Homo sapiens: one gene and its partners. Changing the gene in region 1 together with any one later gene gives a genetic interaction. Each region holds a gene or a part of one and is shown on either strand. Other genes may lie near its edges.

Region 1 (2,974 bases):
GGACAATATCCGCATCACTGGGAGGTGGTGCGGACTGGGCGAGGACCCTGCACAGGGCCCAGCCTTATATATTAATCTGTAACCAATACTTTTGTCTGTTTCCCCTTCTCCCAGGGGGCCAGGCAGGCCAGGCCCAGGCAAGGGCTGATCCTGGGCCATTGTGTGGGTGAAGAGATGGCATGAGGCAAGCCCACAAGACCAGGGGCCAAAATCCATGAAGCCCAGTTCTGGAGGCCCACCCAAGGTGTATGCGAGGCCAGAAACTGGCACCCAAGGAAAGACATGAAAGCTGGGGAGACAGAGGATCAGGAGCCAGGGGTGCACAGGGCAAGACAGGGAGAGGGCCACAAGGATGCAGAGACAGTGGTGCCGCGTGGGGGCCAGGCAGGCCTGCTCAGCACCCCACTGCCCGAGCCCAGGCCCTGCTGCCTCTGGGCCTCGCTGCCGGCACTTCTGGAGAACCTGGGTCGGCAGAGCCAGTCAGTGAGGAGGAGAACACAGGCGTTGAAGGAATTTATTCATGAGAAGACTGAGGGTCCATCAGGGAGACTGTCCAATGGTGACAAGCTCCAGAAGCCCGCGTCGCAACAGCCAGGAGGGCCAGGCCACCCCAGGCAGGAGGCAGTGGGCTGGCAGCCACCCTGGGCACAGAAGAGCAGACGCAGACAGTGCTGGGCAACGAGGGGCTTTCTTCATGGGCCCGCCTGCCCTGTCCCTCCCCCCAGGTCCCCACCTTCTAGGGTTAAAGTGCAGCTGGGAGGGAGGAGGCAGGCAGAATTGGGGAGCTAGAGAGAGCCCAAGTGAACCCTGACTGTCCACGCAAGTCCCATGTCCTCCTCGTCCTGGAGTTCCTCGAGGTTCAGCGAGCCCATCCCGCCTAGGGCCTCTGGAACCTTGGGGCGAGGGAGGTAACCCCTCACTCCCACACCCATCCGATATTTACAAAGAGCATCCCTGGGAGAGGGGAGAAGGCGGCCGGCTCTGGCAGCTTTCTGGGGGGCCTAGAACTTGGGGCACAGTGCGGGGCACTAACATTTCTAACAGGGAGAGGAGGGGGATGCTCGTCTTCAGGGATGGTCTTGGGGGGTTGTCCCCCTCCTTCTGGCCTTGGAAGACTCTTCCCTTTCCTTCTTCCCCTCCTCCCCTTCCCCCACCAGGCAAGCCAAGGAAGCCAGAGAAAGGCCCGGAGAGCCTGGCTCCCAGCTCCCGCGCCACGAGTCAGCAGGGTCCTGCCCAGGCCTGACTCCCAAACCCCTCCGCTGAGGGAGGGCCACTTCAGTGCCACTGGGGCGACGCTTCCCTGGAGATGGGAAGTGGGGTGAGAGGCCTTGGGGAAACCTGTGGGCCGGAGCCTCCTGTTTCTGCCAGTGGTCTTTCTAGCCCAGCCCTCCCTCAAGCCTGAGGCTGGCAAGATGCTCACACTAAGCCCGGGACCTCAGCAGTACCATCTGCACCCCCAGGGACCTTAGCCCGATTCATGCCATCTTGGATGGCCTCCCCCAGCACTCAATGGCTCAGCCAACTTCCTCCCCCTCCCACAGGCACATCTCTAGAAGCCAGACAGGAAGAGACCACCCCCCCCAAAAAAAGAGCCCTGAAGACCTCTGCTTCCTCCCCCCACTCTTGAATATATTAAATTGTGCAGCTTGGCTCTAACCCCGCCCCTTCAGATCTCCATGGCAACCGGGCAGCATTCAAGTCCGAGTCTGAAGCCAAGTCCATCCAGTGCCAAAGGGGGGCTTCAGCTTCTCCCCTGACTTCCCCAGAGAGTGAGACCCAACATTCCACAGGGGGATGAGAGGGGAGGAAGAGTTGGGGGGGCCTCAGTCCTCAGCCCCCTCTTCCTCTGTGTGGGGGGCCCCAGGGGGGTCCTCGGGCTCAGGGGTCTGCCCGCCAGGATGGGGGTGGGGATGGGGGTGAGGGTGGGTGCCGGGCTGGGATCCCGGCCCGTCCTCGCCCTGCACATAGACGCTCAGCCCCTCGTGACTAGGCTCCTTGCCGCAGGCCTGGCAGCTACAGTGCAGGATCTTCTCCACCAGCTTGTCCACCCTGGGCACCTCCTCGTGGCCCGGGCACTCCAGCGTCACCTGCAGAGGGCAAGAGAGAAGCAGAGGCATGTTCCCAAAGGTCTGGGGCAGGCAAGGCAGCCCCTAGGGTAATACTTCCTCATGGGATCAAGAATCCCAGAGCCCACCTGTGATGCCCAGTTAGCTCTGGGGTCCCATGGGGAGGGGGAAATTGAACCCCTGCACAAGCCACCAGAGCTGTCTCCTCACATCCAGTCCTGCCACCTTCCCACCCATTCCCCACCAGCAGCCACCAGTGTGGCCTGCCCCTGCTAAAATCGCCCCCACCGCCGCGATCCCCCTGCACTTGGAGACAAACCCTGACCCCTCACTAAGGCCACCCAGGACCTTCAGGTGCCACCAGCTGGCTGGCCCCCCTACCCCTGACCCTGCACCACTCTTACCAATCCTGTGCTTGGGCTCTGCCTCAGGGACTCCGCACATGCTGTTCCCTTTGCCTGGAAGGTTCCCCCCACCCACCCCCCTATCCCCGCCGACTACCACATGCCCTAAACTGCGCCTTTGGGTCTGAGCTCAGACTTCACTTCCTCAAAAGAGCCCCACCCCAAAGCCCAGCCCAGCTGAGGCTCACCCTGCAGGAACCCCATCTACCTCCTACTCTGCCCCTATCATCACCCATCTAAGTACCTTTTTTCCTTCTCCCTCCCTTCCTCTCTTCCTTCCTCCCTTCCACAGAGCGCCTACCCTGTGCCAGCTCTGGGGACACAAAGACACATTTCCTTCAAGGAAATCAGAGTCTAGTGGGGGAAACAGATCTGTCAAAATCACCCGGATGCAGGTGGAAGACTGCAGGTGTGAAAGGTGCTTGAAGCGGAGGCATACTGTGCTCTGAGAGCCAACGGTACCAGGGTGTGCCCCAGTCAGGGGGCCTGGAAAGGGGCCCTGAG
Region 2 (3,500 bases), on another chromosome or scaffold:
CACCTCAGCCTCCCAAGTAGTTTAGACTACAGGCACACACCACCATGCCCAGCTATTTTTTAAAAAATTTTTGGTAGAGACAGGGGTGTTGCTATGTTGCCCAGGCTGGTCTTAAACTCCTGGACTCAAGCAATCCTTCTGCTTTGGCCTCCCAAAGTGCGGGATTACAGGTGTGAGCCACCATGCTCAGTCCTTTTCTTTATTTTCTTGCACCCAGACCTGAGCATTCCTGTGGCAGCAACCAGAGACTGCAGGAGTCAAAACTCTGAGGGAAGGAACCTTCTTTTCTGATGAGAAGAGCTGTGGTCTCAGCAGGATTGGGAGAATCTGGTTGCTTTTTCTATCTTCATGCTCCTGGGCCCAAAATACAGGCATGGTTACAGAAAGTGGGTGGCAAAGGGGGAATAACCAAACCCCCAGCTTTCTGGCTGGCCGATCAGAGAAGGGGACTCCAGGGAAGCTTAGAGAACTGCGGAGAAGAGGAGCTTGAGAAAGCAGCCTGTGAAGTTGTATATGAACTCCTAGACCCACACCCAGCTGCAAGATCTACCCCTAAACTGCATACGCAGACTGAAAGAACTGAATGCTGCAAGAGATACTGCCCAGGACAGACGGGCCACAGCATGGCACACAGCTAGGACAGATTTGAAGGCTTTGAAAATCAAACTGTCACCGCAACTACAAACTACAGAAGGCTGGTTAGAGCTTGCAGCCTGAGCCCAACTGGGTCAATTGCCTGCTAAAACAAAAACATCAATGTTCTCCCTAGGATTTAAACAAGGCCTGGAGTCCTTTAACAATATTCAAAATGTTTAGGATACAATCAAAATTTCTCAATACACAAGAACCAAGAAATTCTCAACTCCTGTGGGAAATAACTCACAGATGCTAGCGCCAAGGTGACACAAGGTTTTGGAATTACCTGACAAAGACCTGGCAGCAGCTATTATTAACCTGTTCCAGTAAGTAAGGGCCAATGCTCTTAGAGCAAATGGAAACATAGGGAGTCTCAGCAAGGAGACAGAAAAACCAAATGAGCACTTGAGAACTGACAAATACAATAACCAACAACCTCAAACAAAAACACAACTTACCAGCAGGGCTCAATAACAGAGTGGAGATGAGACAGGAGAGGAGAGTGATATGGGCTGGGTGCAGTGGCTCATGCCTGTAATCCCAACACTTTGGGAGGCCAAGGTAGAAGGACCACTTGAGGCCAGGAGGTCGAGACCAGCCTGGGCAACATAGTGAAAGCCAGTCCCTACAAAAATAAATAAAATGAGCCAGGTGTAGTAGCATGCACCTGTGGACCCAGCTACTCAGGAGGCTGAGGCAGGAGGATCACTTGAGCCCAGGAGTTCAAGGCTGCATTGAGCTATGATTGTGTCACTGTACTCAAGCCTGGGTGACAGAGCAACACTCTCTCTCAAAACAAAGAGAAAAGAAAGAGGCCCTTGGCTTCCCATCCTGGCTCTGCCACTAACTAGCTTTACAAACACAAGAACATGCCACTCCTGAACCTGTCTGCTAATCTAGAAACAGTTGGGATCAGACCATGTGGTCTCTAAATCCCCTTGTTCCTTATTAAGCTCTAAAAATGAGAAGTCTTAATCTTTTAAAGCTTAATCAATATGGTGACTCTCCTCTTACTACCCAAGGGCAGAGGCAGCCCAGGTATATTTTTAAAAAATCAAACCATGACAGAATGGGGGTCTAATTACAGGAAGAATTCACAGCCCTGAAAAAAAAAAAACAGTTCACAGGAGAAAAGGGGCATGATGTCTTGCCAATGTGGAGAGAGAGGCAGATGATTCTGGTTCACCCCCTGCCCCCGGGATCTTTGAAAGCAAAAAGAACCTCAGTGTTTAGCACTTCTTGGCTACCTTAAGAACAATATCTATTCTTTTAGGATAGATTTTGAATGCTTAGGAATAAAATATGTTGTCAAATTCATCCTGTGAGTGCTGGGGAGGAGGAGTAGATACAGACTGAGTGAGAGTGCCCAAGCTGATGGCCCTTGACGTGGCGTGATGGCACAGGGGAAATCACCACACTATAATTCTGTGTATGGCTTCAATTTTCAATAATAAGTTAAAAAAAAAAAAGACTCTGGTTTCTACTTTGTGATGTGATGATTTCTTCTCATTTGCTTTTTGTTCGAGGTCAGCTACAGAATCATGCAGAACTGTGGCCCCAAAAGCTGCAGGGACAATAGTAACCTGGGTAAGTGACCTACAGGCTCAGGCTCTTAAGACTCCTGTGCAAGGGTGACAAGAGGCATGACCGTCGGCCCACAGCAGACCTGCTGCATGTCACTGGATAGCCAGAATTCCCTTAGACACGTTAAAGAAATGACAGAGTGTATAATGTGAATTAAAAGTTTAAAAAGACAGAAAACCCAATTGCAGAGCCCCAAAAGGGCAGGCAAATTCAATTAAGGGGGGGCCAGATCTCTAGCAGCACTATGCAGAGCAATCCAGCTTTGTGGAACGGCATGGTGGGAGAAGTCAAAGGATAGGTCAAGCCTACTGGTTTGGAGAGGATGATATAAAAACACATCCCCAGAGTCCAGCCCAGTCAGGGAGTCAAGCATGCTTGGAAGGAAGCCAGCAAGGTAGGGAGCTAAAGGAATGCCAGATGAACCCTACATTTGGCTCCTTGCAGGGCCTAAAAGATAAATATTTTAAGGATGAGCAATCACAAGGCAAGCAAAGCATTTTAAAAGCATTTCCCTCTGTATTGGGCTCAAGTGAAAGGAAGTTCTATAGGTGTGTGTTTCAGAACAGCCACTCCAAACTGTCCTCTCGAGGCTCTTACCTTGGTCTGTTTCTTCTCAGTGGCATAGACGATGGAGGTACAACAGACTTCAGCAATCTTCCGGCCCTGACCATAAAAGGACCAGCAGCAGATTTCATCCCCAATAACATCCTTTATGAACAGGACCCTTCCGTTAAAGCGCAGAGACAGCTTATCAAACAGTTCAATGTTTTTCAACATATTGTCGTCAGAATTGCTGCAAAAGAGCATTTGATACGGTGACCACAAGCTGGTAAAAACTGCCATCATTTGCTGGGCCCTTCTACACGCAGGGCCCTACTGAGCCCACTTTCTCCACTACCTCATTTCAACCTCACAATAATCCCATGACAAAGGCACTCCAATCTCCATCACTCAAGAAGGAAAGTGAGGATCAGAGAAATTAGGTAATTGCTCAAGGCTGAACCTAATAAATGGCAGACACGCCCCCCAAAAGACAGCCCTGGCCCCTAAGCCTGAGTGCTCCTAACCATTGTGCTTGAGTGACAGCCTCTGGGCACAGGCACCAGGTGGAGGAGAGCACCTCACCGAGCCCCAAGAGGAGCAGAATGGCACTGCCCAAGGGAGACTCTATATCCTAGGTCTTTTTAAAGATCTTGAGTAACCTGATTAAATCCTCCCTGCATCCCTCAAGTTCCTGAGTTAGAGCCACATGTTTTCAAGGGCCAAATGGCATTCTAGAA
Region 3 (3,500 bases), about 180 Mb from region 1:
GTCATGGCCACTAAGGAAATACTTAATGGAAGATCAGTTCTAATTTGTAGATCACTCTTCTTTGGAACAGTGGTATGGAGAGGGAGGGTGGAAATTCTAAATTCAGAATCAGTTTCACCTAGTGGGCAGTGATAGTGAAGTCATCTCTTCTGTCTTTTCTCCCTTGTTTTTGCTTTACTTTTGTGTATACGTAGAGGCTCACAAACATGGTAGCTATGTGCTGTTATACGTGTGTTTGTAGTCAGATAGGTGTACAGTTTAACTAAGGACAGCAGGCATAACCTTTTGGACAACGTGAATCAGAAAGAGTAGTGAAATTGGGATTTGAACCCAGAGTTGACTTCAAAAGCCATGCTTTTTCCACTCTACTACACCTGAATAGGCTGTACTGGCTTCCTATTTCACTTATTCATTTACACATTCAGCTACCTTTTACTGAGCATTCTGCTGTTGCCAGGCAGCTTGTTAGATCAGTTTTTTTTTTTCTCAAATTTTCTTGGTCATAAGAATCACCGGGGATTCTTGGCAGGGACATATATGTGCATGTGTATGTGTATGTACACACTTGCTAAAAATCTCTTCTGGGGGTTCTGAGTCAGTTGGTCTGGTGTAGAGCTTGGGATTTTATAATTTTCATGCTTTTCCTCCAGTATTTTTTATGATAAAGGAAATTGGGAAAATTGTGCTAGATTAGGGGTGTGGAGTTAAAAGACCCAGTCCCTGTATTCAAAGGAGTGTAGTGGGAGAAATAAGTTAACAGCCAAGTACAATCAATTAAATGCTAAACAAACTAAAGTAGATGCTCTAATAGAACATGTAAGTGAGGACATATAAAGTTGGAGGGAGACATTCTCTCAGAGGAAGGAGCAGCTGAGCTTATTTTTGAAGGATACATAGCATTATTAGCTTGGTAAAGAAGGGGAGAAGGATATTCCAGGGAGAGGGAGCAGCATGTACCAAGATTTGAAAGCAAAAAAGTAGGGAGCCTTTGGGAATCTATAAATTGTTCACTGTGTTTTGAGCATGGAATTTGAGGGTGGAAAGTGATAAGAGAAGAAACTAGAGGCTGGGTGCGGTGGCTCATGCCTGTAATCCCAGTACTTTGGGAGGCCGAAGCGGGCAGATCACCTGAGGTCAGGAGTTCGAGACCAGCCTGGCCAACATGGTGAAATCCTGTCTCTACTAAAAATACAAAAATTAGCCAGGTGTGGTGGCACATGCCTGTAATCCCATCTACTTGGGAGGCTGAGGCAGGAGAATCGCTTGAACCAGGGAGATGGAGGTTGCAGTGAGCCGAGATCGCGCCACTGCACTCCAGCCTGGGTGACAGAGCATGACTCCATCTCAAAAAAAAAAAAAAAAAAAAAAAAGAGAATAAACTAGAAAGGCCTGCAGAACTTGGCTCATGAAGGACTGTCTTAGTAAGGATAACTGGTAAGACTTGCTGATTATTGGAAATGGAGGATGAGGGAGAGAGAAATCAATGTTTCTGGTTGGACAACCAGATTAGATATCGATGTCATTTTTTGAGATCACAAGAGGAAAAGTAGATTTGAGTAATTGATGAGTTCTGTCTCTTCTGTGGATATACTGCCTCTCCTCTGTCTTCTTCTACCCTCAACCTCTCATTCCCAGTAATTAAATTGAAAATAGGAGGAGTATGGGGATCAATAGAAATATGGTGGTATTGAGACTATGAGATGAAATATGATTCAAGTCCAAGTTTAGTGGGCATAAGAGAAAGCTGTGGGCTTGTGGGGCAGAGTTCTCTATTGGCTCTCCAGATTTTAGAGGGATAGTAATTTGAAGGTAAAGCCAGGAAGACATAGATAAGTGTAGTGGAGGCAAAGGTCTTTGGAATGATTTCAAAGGACTAGGAGGCTCAGATTTTGCGTGGAATGACTATGTCATTGAATAACATAGTGTAATGAATGCTTAAGAGCCTGGTTGGCCAGGCATGGTGGCTCACGCCTGTAATCCCAGCACTTTGGGAGGCCAAGGCAGGCGGATCACCTGAGGTCAGGAGTTTGAGACCAGCCTGGCCAACATGGTGAATCCCTGTCTCTACTAAGAATACAAAAATTAGCCAGGTGTGGTGGTGGGCGCCTGTAATCCTAGCTATTCGGGAGGCTGAGGTAGGAGAATCGCTTGAACCCTGGAGGCGGACATTGCACTGAGCTGAGATCATGCCACTGTACTCCAGCCTGGGCGACAGAGCAAGACTCTGTCTCAAAAAAAAGAAAAAAAAAAAGAGCATGGACTTTGGAGATACATTATTTGAATTTGAATCTCAGCTTCATCACTGCAGTAGAAATGTGATCTTGAACAATTTACTTAATGTCTTTCTGTGTTTCAGAACAGAAAATAGAGATTATATTGACAATGTCTTTCTCATAGGTTTGTTGTGAGCATTAAATGAGTTGATCTATACAAAAGGTTTTGAAGAGTGCCTGGCACATAGTGAGCCCAACTAAATGTGGTTATATCAACTTTGGAATTAGCCAGGATGGTAGAGAATAATAGTATGTGGATGGGGGTAATAGAAGGTGGTATAGCGAGCATGATGGCAGGAGCCTCAGAGGAGAAGAAAAAAGTAGGACCTCTCCAGTGTGGCCCCAGCTACCTTTTCCAATTTGTTTCCCACACTACATTTTCATTTCTAAGTCCTCCTGGAGCCTCTATAACATAAAATACTATTTTACATAAAATAAGCATTATTACGTGTTTATTGAATTCTGACAGCCCCCATCCCTGTTCATAGCATTTGTCAATGACCTTATAATTACTTGGTGTTCCCTTATACCTGGTCTCTTTGGAAGTGTTTTGTTTCTCTCTCATGACACCAGCTATATTCTGCCTTGTATTACTCATGTACTGTATTGCATCTCCAATTAGCTTCTGAGTTTTTTCAGGATAAAAACTATGTCCAGTTCATCTCATATTTTCCCACAGCTCCTAGAAGAGTGCTTTGTACCTAGTAGGGCACAATAAATATTTGGTGAATTGAACTTAAATCTCTTTGACACTCCCTTGAAGCTTCCAATTCTGTTAGATGCTTGCTGACTCACTTCTGGGTCAGTGGATGAAATTTATTTCTCTAATAAGGAAACCATGCCCTAACTGTCAGAAGAGCTGTTTGGAAGCAAAGTTTCCCGTTTTTGGCCTCTACACTGTATCTTTCAGAGTCAAAAGGAGGAGAAGCTCAGCCCACTTAATCTAATGATTGCTTTCTCTCCCAATCAGGAAGAATTGTTGATTTAAGGTTCCATCTTACCAGATCAAATGTCAACCTACAGGGTGTCTTTCCTATTCTGAGCACATGTGATGCACAGATGCTGCTGTCCTTGCCCGAGAATGCCCTACCCCCTCTTTCTGGTTCAATCTACTCTGTCTCTCATGCCTCACATTCTATTTACTCCTTCCCTTTTCTCTGGCCATCCTAAATTTTCCCTTTTCTGATTAGTCATATTTATAGTCATCTCATTTTGATTCTTAATTAA
Region 4 (3,500 bases), on another chromosome or scaffold:
AATTTCCACTTGTTATTGTTAATGGTGCCAACAGAGTCCTTTGAAATATCCAAATAGTCTTGATCATTCAGTCACATCTCTATTTAAAATGAGAGTTTTCTACTACTTCCATAAGATATATTTGCTATGGTCTTCTATTACAAGTCATCCATAGGACTTGAAGTTTTTCAGTTCTTATTCAACATTCTGAAGTACTGGTAATAATCTTTTATTACTTTACAAGCAACTTACATCCTCAGCTTTTAGTAACATTGTTTTAATACAAGTATATCCTAAAATTTTTGGTTTTATTTCATGCTTTAGGTGTGGAGAATAAACACAAAGCACAACATAATCTATGTAAATGGCTCTGTACCTGGACATAAAAATTGCTTAGTAAAGGTAAGTATAAGTGTCTTCTTTTTTTTTCCTTTTTTTTTTTTGTTTCTTACTCGCAAGCTAACAAATTACTATCTTTATTTTCTATTGTTTATATATGTGGATATTTGCCATAAAGTCTCCTTTTTCTCATATATGTGGCTTATAAATAAATGGCTGTTTTTCCACATGTTCTCTCCTGAATCTTTCTGCTTTTTAGTAGCACCTGAGTGAAAAAAATGCACAAGATAACCTGTATTCTATTTCTTTCAAACCAAGAACCTGTAAAAAGGGTAAGGCTGTGTATTAGTCCATCCTAATAGAATGGATGGACTCCTATAAAGAAATACCTAAGATTGGGTAATTTATAAATAAAAGAGGTTTAATTGGCTCGTGGTTCCACAGGCTGTTCAGGAAGCATGGCTAGGGAGGCCTCAGGAAACTTACAATCATGGCAAAAGGGGAAGGAGAGATGGACATGTCTTACATGGCTGGAGCAGGAGGAAGAGAGGGAAGGGGGAGGTGCTACACATTTTTAAACAAGATCTTGTGAGAACTCACTATCACGAGAACAGCAAGGGGGAAGTCTGCCCCCATGATCCAATCACTTCCCACCAGGCCCCTCTTCTAACATTGGGGATTACAATTTGACATGAGATTTGGGCGGGGACAAAAATCCAAACCATATCAGGCCAGTAAGCAGAAAGATCTTCAGGAATATGAGAAGGATATTTGGAAAACTATTGCCAAAATACCAGTATATCTCTGTCCTTCCAAAAGGAACATGTTAGCTTTTTAAAGTGCCCCATCTACAAATGAATGGATAAAGAAGATGTGGTGGGTGTGTGTGTGTGTGTGTATGTGTGTGTGTGTGCGCGCGTATGGCTGAAGAATATTCTAGAGAATGCACACACACGCTAGAATAATCTTCAGCCATAAACAGAATGAATTGCTATTGTTTGTGGTGACATGGATAAACCTGGAGGACATTATGTTAAGTGTAATAAGCTAGGCACAGAAAGACAAATATTGCATGATCTCACTTTTATGTAGAATCTAAAAGTTGATTTCATAGAAGTAGAGAACAGAATGGTTTTACCAGAGGCTGGGGGAAAATAGTGGGGAGGAGAGCTGGCGGAGGTGGTCTACAAGCACAGAGTTAGTTAGGAAGAATACATTCCGGTATTCTGTTATATAGTAGGGTGACTGACTATAGCTAATAGTAAGGTATATTTCAATATAGGTAGAAGAGAGGATTTTGAATGTTATCACCATAAAAGAAATGATACATGTTTAAAGTAATGGATATGCTAGTTATCCTGATTTTATCATTATACAATGTATATTTATTGAGACATCACACCATACATATATATGTACAATTATGTGTCAATTATAAGTAAACCCTGCCCCCACCCCCCCCCAAAAAAAATGCTTTTTGGCTTTTAAAAGAGTTACTTTGACAAACCAGAAATACATGAGGTAAAAATTGGAATCATCAAAAGTGGTTAAAGGTAGACATTTGAGGGGGAGCTTTTTTATTATTACTAACACCATGCTCTGATTATATCTTTTAAGTGTTTTTCTTAAAAAAAAGAAAAAAGTAAAAAATTTGTACCGATAGCTCAGATACATTTTAATAAAAACTCTTTAAGTTCTCAGAGACTTACTTCCATAAAATAGAAAATAAATATTCTGCCTGGGGTTTATTCCAACCTAATACAAATTTTCTTACCTCTGAGTTTTGAATCTTCCATGCTGAAAATAAGTTTGTATTAGAAGTTATGTCAGCTGTTCTCCAGAGTATACTCTTCATTGATTTTCCAATGATAGCAGCAAAGAAATAGTGAAACTTAATCCTCTGATTTTTTAAACTCAGTGTTTCCTTATATATTTTTTTTCATTTCTAGGTTCCATTACTAGCATAGGGAATAATTTTTTGAAATCTTGCAAGGAATAAGAATTTTGCTTTTTAAAATTACCTTTCTGAGACACTTCACTTACTGACTGGATTATTCTCATTTTTGTTAAAGAAAAAAATGCATTTAAGCCAGGCCTGGTGGCTTGCATCTGTAATTCCAGCTACTCAGGAGGCTGAAGTGGGAGGATAGGATCACGTGGCCTCAGGAGTTGGAGGCTGCAGTGAGCTGTGATCACACTATTGCCTTCTAGCCTGGGCAACAGAGTGGGACCTTGCTTAAAAAAACAAAAAAAAAAAAAAAAGAGAGAAAAAGAAAAATGTATTTGATGAATTTTTGTAAGTTTTGTTTTTTCCTTAAGTTTGCAGGTTTTTAAGTTTAAGTAGGTTTCTAGTCCCCAAGTAAGGCAGTCATACTTACAATGACAGATAGTTGAAGCCAGAGTATTGTCATTGTACTTCCCGTGGTATTTTGTCTTCATAATTCATGTGAAGACATATCTTCATATCCCTAGCCCCACATTTCAGATCACAGGTTATAAATAGCACAACCTGATAAAGGAGAAGGATTATTTTTTATAATAAAAGTATACTGGACACCAGATTAATTTTTAAATGTCAAATCCTCCTTTTCTGCCTATTTTTCTACATACATGATTCTAGGCTGGTTTTCTAGCTGAACCTTACCATTAATTGCTGTGACTTCTCAAGTACTACTACAACATCTTCTCAAGTACTTCTACAATATCCCTGTTACCAGCAGAGATGAATGGTCAATTATCTTGAAAAACTGTAGTACATACAATGACATTCTGATGTAGTTGTATAAATAGTTGATAACCAGTAACATTTATTACTCAGATTTATCGCCTACTTCAGTAAAAGATTACTTCCAAAAACTCTATTCACTCTCAATCGATAATAGTTTGCCATCACTGAAGATACTCAGAAGATACACCAAAGAGTTCTGAAACGGGAGTCTAAATACATTTTGAGAAACTGGCATCAGAACAATGTCTAGTCCCTTTTGAACTATTAACACACTAGTGAATATATTTCCAGCAAGTATATTTGTATAATAAACACGTCCTTTAAAAAAATCTTTGAAATATGGTGCTTAAATAACTTTCTTTTGTAACCTTAAAGTATCTGCCCAGGCATTAATTAAGGTATGAATTTGGGGAACATTTTATAGGTTTGTGTTTTAAATGGTAAAACTTGCTAT
Region 5 (3,500 bases), on another chromosome or scaffold:
GGAAACTTACAGTCGTTTATTGGTCTATATGGAAATAGAGTCTTTGGGCATCAAAGGATTTATCAGTAAGACAGGACTTTCTGGTGTTTATAACTATTAACCCATTCATTAACTCTAAAGTTACTTTTCTAGGTCCTGGGGACACAGCAGAGAACAAGTCACCACCATGATGGAGCTTATGGAGGAGGACATTAAATAAATGAAATATACAATATGTCAGATGATACATGTTATAGAGAAAAATAAAGCAAAAAGGAATAGGAAGTGTGAGGGTTGGGGGGTTTGTTGCATTTTTAAGTAAAGTGGTAAGAAAAGGTTAATGTGCTAGGTGCCTGGGATGCAGTGAGCAGGATAGACCTGGTCCCTGTCCTCATGCAAATGGATTCTGCCTGAGGCAGCAATGCTGTCCTCCAGTGCATACGAAGTCTGACTGGAAATAAAGAAGGAATTTTCCTACCTTGCAGAAGATACATTATAATGTCTCATTTATTATATAGTTCTAAAATAATAGATACTTTCTGATATAGAAGTGTTTTTCTGATTCATGGTAATTCCAGCTTTTCACGAATACAGCATAGTCTTAATTTTAACCACAATAACTCTTCTTAGATAACTGATTGTTGAACAAAACTTTCTTGGGGGTAGGAGGAAACAAGGGCAGGTATAATACAATTTTTTGTATTAAAAAGTGAACCTCATACTTCAAAAGGTATGGAACATTAATTGTCTAAAAATAAAAGATATCAGAATTGAGAAGATTAATGTTTTTTCATATCTTGTCTCATTTTATTTTTCCAGATAAACATGATTATCAATTGCCAAATCCCAGGAAAAAAGCAAACTTGATATTATAGTTAGGATCTGAATTTTTCCTTACTGTTAAAGTAGAAAATAAGAAAATATGGAGAATATATATGTGTGTGGGCGTGTGTATTTTCACAATCAAATCTTTATATTTTACTCAATGTGACTTTCTTCAAATATCTTTTCATGCATAGCCTTTAATAATTGGTACCTTAAATTGTCTTTTTCCTCCAGGTCAGCTTTTGCCAACTGTTTTCAAATCACATGCATGGGGGATCTTACACACACTCCTTGAGATGTTTAGCTACCGGATGCATCATATTCAGCCTCATTACAGAGTTCAGCTCCTGAGTCATCTTCATACTTTGGCTGCAGTTGCACAAACAAACCAGAACCAGCTCCATCTTTGGTGAGCTCATTGAAGACCATCTTTCCTTAAGATTTATTAGAAACTTTCTTGGAGATGAGGTTCTTAATCCTTTACCTTTACCTTATAGTTTTTTTTTTTATTATTATTCATCTGTCATAAAACTTCTCTGCTTCTAAAGTATTTTGTTTCCAGTATAGGAGCAGAGTCCAGCTTTTTAAATAGAAACTGATTAAGATAGTTGAGTCCTTCCTTCAGGATCTTTGGACTGAGAATTAGTACTTCCAGGGTATTTATTATTATGTTGTAACTTAGCCCTTTAGAATGCTGGTTTTAAGTATACTTCAGATTATGGTTAAAGTATCATGTCACATTGATTTTGCTTTACATTAAAATATATTTTAGATAGAAAAATATAATTTTTGAAATGCAGTATCTCCAGGTGAAATTTTTTAGTCCTATAGGCGACAAGCCATCTTTTTCAAATGTGTAAAAAGTCACGATTTTCACTATAAAATTGGACACATTAGGTTTTTTAAACAAATTAAGCAACATTTATTCTCACACAAAAGTGTTTTTTTAAAGAAGGGATAGTCATAGATTGCATGTTTTTCCATTGTAATTAACCTTAGATTTAATTCCATAATTCTGAAATTTTTTTACATTTCTTTTTATTCTCCCAATTTTCAGTGTCGAGAGCACTGCTCTCAGGCTTATAACAGCATTAGGTAGCTCAGAGGTACAACCGCAGTTTACACGCTTCCTTAGTGATCCCAAAACAGTGCTCTCAGCAGAATCTGAAGAACTGAACCGAGCCTTGATATTGACCTTGGCTAGAGCAACTCATGTAACAGGTACGGTGAATATGTGACTACAAACAACAACAGATGAATTAAAGTGTGCCATGATTCTACTAATTACTATAGTTGTAACATACTAAAAAGATACTTTTCATTTGTTTGAAAAAAGCCTGTTGTTTTGATATCTTCACTATTTCACTCATTTATGGAAGCTCTTTTGTGTACCATCATTCTATTAATAACTGCGTTGAGCATCGTTTTCAGCTATCCATAATTTTAAAGTAGTAATACTTTAAGCTTTTTGGTCTCAGGACTGCTTTACACTCTTAAAAACAAAATTGAAATTCCCAAAGAGTTTCTGTTTATATGGATTATATCTATGGATATTTATTATATTAGATATTAAAATTAAGAAGTTTAAAAATATTTATTAATTTGTTTTTAAATAGCAATAATAAACATTACATGTTAATATATGATGTTATAAAAAAAGTATATTTTCTAAAGCAAAACTTTAGTGAGAAGAGGTGCCATTGTTTGACATTTTTGCTTCTCTAATATCTGGTGTAAAGGAAGACATAGTTTGGATTCTCATCTGCTTAGACATTTAATCCATTGAAGTTTTAGTTGAAGTAAGTGAAAAATGTGGCCTCACACAGATGAGGTTGGAAAGAGAGGAGTATTTTAATAGCTTTTTCAGATAATTGGGAATGTTCTTTGACATCACATGGAAAAATGATAGTTGCTTAAAGGTTAGCTGCAATATGGAATCCAAAACCCCCAGTAAACTTCATGTACTTTGTTACATTATAATCTGTACATCTGTTTTATACATTTAGTGGATTTTTAAATCCATGCATGTTTTGTAACTTCATGAATTATTCATTTTGAAAATACTGGTTCACTGAGTTACGTAGATCTAGCAAACGTTGACATTTTGTTTATACAGTATCAGAAAATTACATTTGTTAATATCACTGCAAAGTTTATTAGAAAAATCTAAGTTTTGGAATGCTATCATGTCGTGGTAGATACAGGTTTTCCAAAATTTCAATTTTTACTTGAAAGGTCAAATTTTATCATTGGAAAAAGTTACTATCATTTGTTTTCCTTAAAGTGACAAGCTCATTTTGTTAATTTTCAAGAAAATGTCTGCTAAATACGTAAGTCTAGCTAGCTATAGTTTTCTGTCAGACGTTCTTTCAAGTAAAATTGGAATTCAAAAAAAAAAAAGCAGCTGATTTAACTCAGTGCTCAGTCAGTCACACAAGTGCACAAGTGTTTTTCCTCAAGACACCCATCAAACTTGGAACACTAGGCATATGCTTCCCCTTTTGTTACATATGATGTTAAAAATAGGTGTCGAGATTGACACTGGCACTTTTCTTTCACTGAGTGCATGTGCTGGAGAATACAAAGCCTTTTCATCTAGTCTGGCACCACTGTTTGATTTGTGCTTAGGACCAGCAGTTTTACCACCATTGCTTTTGTACCGTCAGTGCTCATACCAAGTGAAAAAGCCTGATATC
Region 6 (3,500 bases), on another chromosome or scaffold:
TTGGCAGGCTGTCCCATGGTGAGCATTTCGTGTGCAGTGAAGTTAATTTGATGGTTTGTGCCCCCCTTCAAAAATCCCGGTATTTAAGGAAAATTCTCTTCTGCTCATAAAATTGTTAAATGTTGAAATGCAAGAATTTCTAGAAAGATGTGTAGTGGTTTTAAATAAAATGTGCATAAGGGCCAGTAATTTTCCCTTTACTCTTTTCTTACCTCCCCGTTCCTTTTTTTTTCAATGCAGCATCACCGACACATTTGAAGCCTTCACATTAAGTCTTCTGTCTTCACTCTTGACTTCTGGGCCCAATTCTCCCTTTTACAAAGCCTTGATTGAATCTGGCCTTGGCACAGACTTTTCTCCTGATGTTGGGTGAGTTTATGATTAGATTAGATCAGTAGTTCTCATTGGTTGGGGGCAGTTTTGCTCCTCCACCTCCGCACCCTGTCCCGGCCCCACACTTGACAGTGTCTGGAACATTTTTGGATTTTTGATTGCTATAATCGGAAGATGGCGGACCAGGAAGTTGCTGAGTGTCTCATGGTACACAGGATGGCCGCCCCCATCAGGGAACTCTGGATGAGATCCTGGATCCAGTGCCAGCCATTTGTGTCCCCCCAAGGGGACATTTGTCCAAAAGAAAAACACCCAGCACAAAGACAGCTTTTCCAGGGCCTCAGAATGTCATGCTGTTGTCTCTTACAGGTCAGGTCATTAAGTATTAGAATTTTTTTTTTAGATGGAGTCTCTCCCTGTCGCCCAGGCTGGAGTGCAGTGACGCGATCTCGGCTCACTGCAAGCTCCACCTCCCGGGTTCACACCATTCTCCTGCCTCAGCCTCCAGAGTAGCTGGGACTACAGGAATTTTTAAAATTTTGTAAATCTCAGCAGTTCTCTGTTTTGATATTTATCCTGCCATAACTCAAAAGTTTAAATTTTATTTTTAAAAAATGATGTAAAAATGACATGGATGTACACAGAACCAGTTACTTGAGAACACTGCTTTAATGAGCTTTTCAGTGGAGGGGCTGGAGTTTAAGGCGCTTCGTTCTGATCTTTAAATCAAGCATATTACGAGGGCATGATGAACGTGCCCGGATTCCAGTGCATCATTTCTGGTTTTGTCTTCTAGATATAATGGCTACACGAGGGAGGCCTACTTTAGTGTCGGCCTCCAAGGGATTGCGGAGAAAGACATTGAGACCGTCAGAAGCCTCATAGACAGAACGATTGATGAAGTAGTTGAGTGAGTGTAGCTTGTTTGTAACAATCTGCTTTCGTTCCTCATTCCTGTGTGCTTTTTGGGAGAAGCTGAGCCTGATCCATTGTTTCGGCCTTCCTTCTCTGTCATATAACATGCTTTTGTTCATATTTAGTTGTTTAAATATTATCTCTGCTACCTTCTGTTACTAAAACTCTTCAACATCTTAGGTTTTTGTTTTGTTTTGAGACAGGGTCTCGCTTTGTCACCCAGCCTGCTGTGCAGTGGCGTGATCTCAGCTCACTGCATTTTCCTCCCCTACCAGGCTCAGGTGATCCTTCCACCTCAGCCTCCCAAGTAGCTGGAACTAGGGTGCACACCACCATGCCCAGCTAATTTTTGTGTAGTAGAGATGGGCTTTCTCTGTGTTGCCCAAGCTGGTCTTAAATGCCTGGCCTCAAGCAGTCCTCCTGCCTTGGCCTCCCAAAGTGCTGGGATTACAAGCATGAGCCATTGTGTCTGGCCCATCTTTGTTCTTCATTGTATTCTTTAGGAAAGGATTTGAAGATGATCGAATTGAGGCTTTACTTCATAAAATTGAAATACAGATGAAACATCAGTCTACCAGCTTTGGGCTGATGCTGACATCAGTAAGTGATCTCTCAACAATTTTGTTTTTGTTTTATAATAGACATTTTGTCTTGTTACTAGCTTAACTGGCTTTTTGATATTTTTATGTGAAATAGATTACTTTAAATGGGTAAGGGTTTATAACTAGTAATCTGTTGGTTATTTCCTAAACATTATTTCAGCCTGTGCTTTTTATTTTATTGGAACAAAACAGGGCTAAAGTAAGTTTTTTTGTTTCTCCATCCAAAGAATTACATGACTTTTGTTATAAACAATCATCTGTGGTATATTTAAATACAGAAACTAGGATTTTAGTATCAAGTCTGGGCTGTTGGTGGAGGTTGTACTGTGGTACCAGCTGCATTGTGGATGTGGAAATCTTCCTTCCAGTACATAGCTTCTTGCTGGAACCATGATGGGGACCCTGTGGAGCTCTTGAAGTTGGGAAATCAGTTAGCTAAATTCAGACAGTGCCTGCAGGAAAATCCAAAATTTTTGCAAGAAAAAGTAAAACAGTATTTTAAGGTAAGAAAGTTGGATAATTCATTTCTCTAATTTTGAAGTTGAATTTTATACTAATGAAAGGAATATTAGGAACATAATCTATACATTTAAGTAATTTCTGTTAATGGGTGACTTAATTTCTAATTAAAAATTTAAATGCTTACATTAACTTAATTATTTTCCAGATTGTAATGCAAGTTGAGTTTTTTAGATAAATGTATATGTGCATTTTTAGTGTGTGAATATATGTATGTTTGTGTGTATGAACAAAACATCTGCATATATTGTTCTTTTATTAGTAGAAGAATATAAAATATGTGAACAGTCACCCAAATGTAATGAATCTTCTGGTTTTCATGAGTGAATTCTTTTGATGCTTGCGCGTTTGTTTTCTCAGATTTTTAGGCAGTTGTGCTTGGTTGCCTGTTCTTTGCTTTGTACTCATTACTATGGTAGAACTTTTAAAAAGGGTTCCCGTGGTGGGAGAGACTGTTGTCTGCTGTGAAGGGAAACTCTCCAGTAGGTTCCATTGTTTTAGACATGAGATATGATTTAATAATTTGACCTGCAGTTTCTCTCAGCTGTTGTAAGTTATTTTCCATGAACTTTCTGGTGTCTTCTAGTTATCTCACCTGTTTGTAGTATTTTATATGGGAGCATTTTGTGCATGTGTAGTTTTTTAATTGTTGAAACAAGGAAAGGACATGAAATCACCTAATGTTCATTTTTATATTAACGTCAACATGTATTTTGTTCTAATAACTTACGAAGTATTGAATGGGAAATGTAGTTCTAGCCTTTTAGAGCTTAATAGTAGAATGAACGCTAGACAAAAAATAGAATTCTATATTATCTTCAATTAGACTAAAATCCAAGATCTGTAGTACTTGAAAGTGCAAACCTTTTTACAACTAAGATGTAATGAAAATGTTTAGTATTGATATGTTTAAGACTTAATGACCATAATAATAATAACAGTAGAATAACAGCATATATGAATTCTGTGCTTACTACATAGGCAGGTATGGTGGTAAGCATTTTATAAGGCTTGTGTACTTGCATCAGCAAAACAACTCTTGAGGTGCGTTCTATTATTACTATTTTTAAAGTGGGAAAGTGGAACCACAGGACCAAGAACACACCAGCAGAAGCTTGTTGAGTGTTAGGA
Region 7 (3,500 bases), on another chromosome or scaffold:
AAAACGTTTTACTAGACCAGCAAGAACACTGTTACATGGCTTTTCTGCTCAGCCTCAGATATCCTCTGACAATTGCTTTCTCCAGTGGGGATTTAAGACTTACAGGACTTCCTCCTTATGGAATAGTTCCCAGTCTACTAGCTCAAGTAGTCAGGAGAATAATTCTGCCCAAAGCAGTCTGCTTCCTTCCATGAATGAACAGTCACAGAAGACACAAAATATATCCAGCTTTGATTCTGAGCTGTTTCTAGAAGGTAATTCTGAACTTTCAGAAAAGTCTCCCTTTCCCTACTTTGGCCATTTGAACAAGCTACCTGTTTACCTTCTGCTAGCCCATTTCAGGTAATATTTTGTGCCAAGAAAGAAAAAGAATAATACCAGTTCTATTGATGAACTTCTATCATGCCTTTATTTTACTGGTAAGAAAAAAAGTTTGTGGGCTAACGTGTAAGATTATTTTATAGCTACACATATAAAACATTTGCTTTTTAAATATTTTATTGTTTAGATTCTTAAAACAAAATTCTTCTAGTGGTAATTAGTTTTATTAGGGTATAATTATATCAAGTAAAATTCATCTTGTGGGATATATAGTTCTATGAATTTTGACATATGCATTTAGTGTGTAAGAACTACTGCAATCAACAAATAAAACAATTATATTAACTCCACAGAGTTCCCTCATGGTCGCTTTTTAGTCAATCCTCTCCTTCCTATGGGTCCTATTCTAGGAATATTTCGCTGGTAATGAAATGATATAAGGTTAAGTAGAATATGAAGGAAAGAGAGCTGGGGAGAGGGCAGGGAGGAGATGCTGGCTATAAATGATGAGAAAGGATAGTTAATGATGAGAAGCACAAAACAGAACAAAAGATCACAGACCTGATTCCTTAGCTTAAGGTAATGTGTAGTTCTAAGTGTCTTCCATGCTGCGTTTGATTTTAAAAAAACAAAAACAACTTCAGAATCAGGGCTGTACTAGAGAGTCACATCTCCTGTAGAGAGGACTGCAGGTTGTAGAAACAATCATAGAAGCCCTTTTAAAGATGTATTTGAGGGTAACTTGGAAGGGAGGGCATTGGGTCAAAACAAAGACTTTCGGGATATGATTACTTTAATCCATGCAATTCAGACTGTTGGCATATGTGTACTTTTAGCCAAGTTAACAGGCTATGGTAAACTCAATCTCTGTTTCAAAATTCACTTGAAAGTTAGGTGATTTTTAGCATTCTCACCTACTGATTAAGTGAAGGAAAGGCATTGTGTGCTTTGAAATTTACCAACAAATTTCTAATCTCAGAGGAACAGTAGTTAGTCTGTCTAAATAGTTGTAACCTTACCTCTTAAAAGGTGAAAAATTAGGGACTTGGATGTTTAATTCTAAAATGATCCCAAGATTTAACCACTGAAAGAAGCAAACAAGGGAAGAGCTGGTCTTTGCAGAAATAGTTTTAAGTGTGCATATTAGAGCACTAATTTGTTTCTCTCTTTCAAAGAACTGGATGAATTGCCTCCATTGTCTCCAATGCAGCCAATTTCAGAGGAAGAGGCTATTCAGATTATTGCAGACCCTCCATTGCCACCAGCTTCATTCACACTTCGAGACTATGTGGATCATTCTGAGACTCTGCAGAAGTTGGTTCTTCTAGGTAAGTTTGACTAAACTACAAGTACTTTTTGCATGTACTCTTCATTACTTTTTTTACTTTTTTAAATTAACAATTTAATCTATACTAAGTAGTATACAAACATAAGCAAAAGTCTAATAGCATAAAGGCTTCTAGTGAGAAACCGTATTCCCTGCCTCATCCTTGGTGATCTTGCATCCTATTCCCCAGATGCATCTACTTAACTTGTATCATTCTTTCTGTTTGTGTTCAACCTCCTCATTTTAAAATAGTTGTTTGTAGTGCTGTTGTTTGGTTCATCAGTTTTAGACATCATTTGATCTCTTGTATGTACACATGTACTTTTCCTGTATTCTTTTCAATTCTCCTAATATAAATTACAATTTTAGATAAATCATTAGTCAGTAGTTAAATTATGACTATAAATATTGCTATCTGCCCTAACAAGAAGTATGCTATCATTATTTACCTTCCTGTACAACTTTTCATTTTTCCGGCAGTAATAGTTGCCTTGTTCTTCATTTGATGAATTGTTTTGTTTGTTTGTTTGTTTCTGGGGTTAAACTTTTCCATACCTTCCAGTAGCCTCTCAGGACAGTTTTTCCCAGGTAACCCTATCAGATGATGTATTTCATTTCTCCAGAGTGGATTGTTCCCTGCTTGTCACACTACCCCGACCTCCTTCCTGAAGCCACTGTCCTCCTGATTTGAATGGTTTCTAGGCCTACTCTATAGCTGCCTTCACTTGTTGACCATTAGGTTGCACTTGGATCTGGATAGCTTAAGGGAGCCAGGGGATCTCCGTCCAAACTTTCATTTAGTCATCTTATTTTTAGTCTGGCATTTTATTACAAACTTTTGCTTTCCTCATTTCTCTGGGTTTGGTACTTCTCATACTTGATTTTCCCAGATAATGAATCTCCTTTCTCCTAGTGCATTGAGAGGAACTGGATTTGGGGGAGGTCGGGTCTCTCCATACCCAATACCCCAGTTTTTAGTCTGTACCTCACCTCTAATCTCTCAGATTTCTAGGGACTCCAATTTTGGAGACTTTTGAGTTTTTTGTGGTACTGATCACTTACCACTTGCCAGATTCTCATTTGCAGGCATTTCAGTGTCGTCTTTCTCCTCTCCGATAAGGCTGTTGCCATGCTTTCATCTGTTTTCAGATGTTTTCAGATATGTGGGGATATAATCTCGTTTCCTCAAAGAAGGATCTCATTTTTTGTTTGTCATTCCCCATATTTTTGGGAGGTGATTTTTAACAGGAGAGGAAAAAGAGAAAAATCTGTGCTCTGTTAGAAACTTTGGGGGTCATCCTTGATTTTTTTTTTTTTTTTTTTCTTCAGACTGGGTCTCACTCTGTCTCCCAGGCTGGAGTACAGTGGTACCATCTCAGCTCACTGCAACCTGCCTCCCAGGTTCAAGTGATTCTCCTGCCTCAGCCTCCCTGGTAGCTGAGATTACAAGCACGTGCCACCATGCCTGGCTATTTTTTGTATTTTTAGTAGAGACGAGGTTTCACCCTGTTGGCCAGGCTGATCTTGAACTCTTGGCCTCAAGGGATCTGTCCACCTCGGCCTCCCAAAGTACTGAGATTATAGGCATGAGCCACCGCACTCGGCCTATCCTTGATTCTTATTGCTTTTGTCCCCTTCCTCTTTACATCTAATTTAATAGCTTATCCTATGGATTCTACCCTCTCTATTTCTTTCAAATCCATCCACTTCTCTCATCCTACAGTCACTACCTTGTTTAGGTCCTCATTTGTCACTGAGTGGCTGCAGGAGCCTCCTATCTTGATAGTCTTCTCCTCAGCAGTATTGGCTCTGATATCTTTCCAGTGTTAGTGCTCTTTCTGAAATGCAGATC

Evidence for each region.
Region 2: changes in MICOS10-NBL1 (region 1) and KCTD10 together harm fitness more than expected from each alone (negative genetic interaction), as found in Homo sapiens cells (one large-scale study listed by BioGRID).
Region 3: changes in MICOS10-NBL1 (region 1) and KIF14 together harm fitness more than expected from each alone (negative genetic interaction), as found in Homo sapiens cells (one large-scale study listed by BioGRID).
Region 4: changes in MICOS10-NBL1 (region 1) and MRPL3 together harm fitness less than expected from each alone (positive genetic interaction), as found in Homo sapiens cells (one large-scale study listed by BioGRID).
Region 5: changes in MICOS10-NBL1 (region 1) and MED23 together harm fitness more than expected from each alone (negative genetic interaction), as found in Homo sapiens cells (one large-scale study listed by BioGRID).
Region 6: changes in MICOS10-NBL1 (region 1) and PITRM1 together harm fitness more than expected from each alone (negative genetic interaction), as found in Homo sapiens cells (one large-scale study listed by BioGRID).
Region 7: changes in MICOS10-NBL1 (region 1) and MTERF3 together harm fitness less than expected from each alone (positive genetic interaction), as found in Homo sapiens cells (one large-scale study listed by BioGRID).

The regions. Positions count from the first base shown.
Region 1 is NC_000001.11:19,655,979-19,658,952, reverse strand, and holds the end of MICOS10-NBL1 (neuroblastoma suppressor of tumorigenicity 1 isoform a precursor), read right to left. Parts: intron 2,088-2,974; coding exon 1,824-2,087; 3' UTR 501-1,823; downstream 1-500. Other genes in the region: NBL1 (neuroblastoma suppressor of tumorigenicity 1), read right to left, coding at 1,824-2,087. UniProt on the Homo sapiens protein: Possible candidate as a tumor suppressor gene of neuroblastoma. May play an important role in preventing cells from entering the final stage (G1/S) of the transformation process.
Region 2 is NC_000012.12:109,453,301-109,456,800, forward strand, and holds part of KCTD10 (BTB/POZ domain-containing adapter for CUL3-mediated RhoA degradation protein 3), read right to left. Parts: intron 3,014-3,500; coding exon 2,818-3,013; intron 355-2,817; coding exon of another isoform or gene 187-354; exon of another isoform or gene 1-186. UniProt on the Homo sapiens protein: Substrate-specific adapter of a BCR (BTB-CUL3-RBX1) E3 ubiquitin-protein ligase complex. The BCR(BACURD3) E3 ubiquitin ligase complex mediates the ubiquitination of target proteins, leading to their degradation by the proteasome.
Region 3 is NC_000001.11:200,610,752-200,614,251, reverse strand, and holds part of KIF14 (kinesin-like protein KIF14), read left to right. Parts: intron 1-3,500. UniProt on the Homo sapiens protein: Microtubule motor protein that binds to microtubules with high affinity through each tubulin heterodimer and has an ATPase activity. Plays a role in many processes like cell division, cytokinesis and also in cell proliferation and apoptosis.
Region 4 is NC_000003.12:131,464,972-131,468,471, reverse strand, and holds part of MRPL3 (large ribosomal subunit protein uL3m), read left to right. Parts: intron 1-303; coding exon 304-381; intron 382-3,500.
Region 5 is NC_000006.12:131,600,743-131,604,242, reverse strand, and holds part of MED23 (mediator of RNA polymerase II transcription subunit 23), read left to right. Parts: coding exon 1-65; intron 66-1,038; coding exon 1,039-1,213; intron 1,214-1,861; coding exon 1,862-2,025; intron 2,026-3,500. UniProt on the Homo sapiens protein: Required for transcriptional activation subsequent to the assembly of the pre-initiation complex. Component of the Mediator complex, a coactivator involved in the regulated transcription of nearly all RNA polymerase II-dependent genes.
Region 6 is NC_000010.11:3,155,783-3,159,282, reverse strand, and holds part of PITRM1 (presequence protease, mitochondrial isoform 2 precursor), read left to right. Parts: intron 1-240; coding exon 241-369; intron 370-1,129; coding exon 1,130-1,243; intron 1,244-1,751; coding exon 1,752-1,848; intron 1,849-2,218; coding exon 2,219-2,353; intron 2,354-3,500. UniProt on the Homo sapiens protein: Metalloendopeptidase of the mitochondrial matrix that functions in peptide cleavage and degradation rather than in protein processing. Has an ATP-independent activity. Specifically cleaves peptides in the range of 5 to 65 residues.
Region 7 is NC_000008.11:96,255,111-96,258,610, reverse strand, and holds part of MTERF3 (transcription termination factor 3, mitochondrial isoform 1 precursor), read left to right. Parts: coding exon 1-254; exon of another isoform or gene 255-389; coding exon of another isoform or gene 390-419; intron 420-1,496; coding exon 1,497-1,649; intron 1,650-3,500.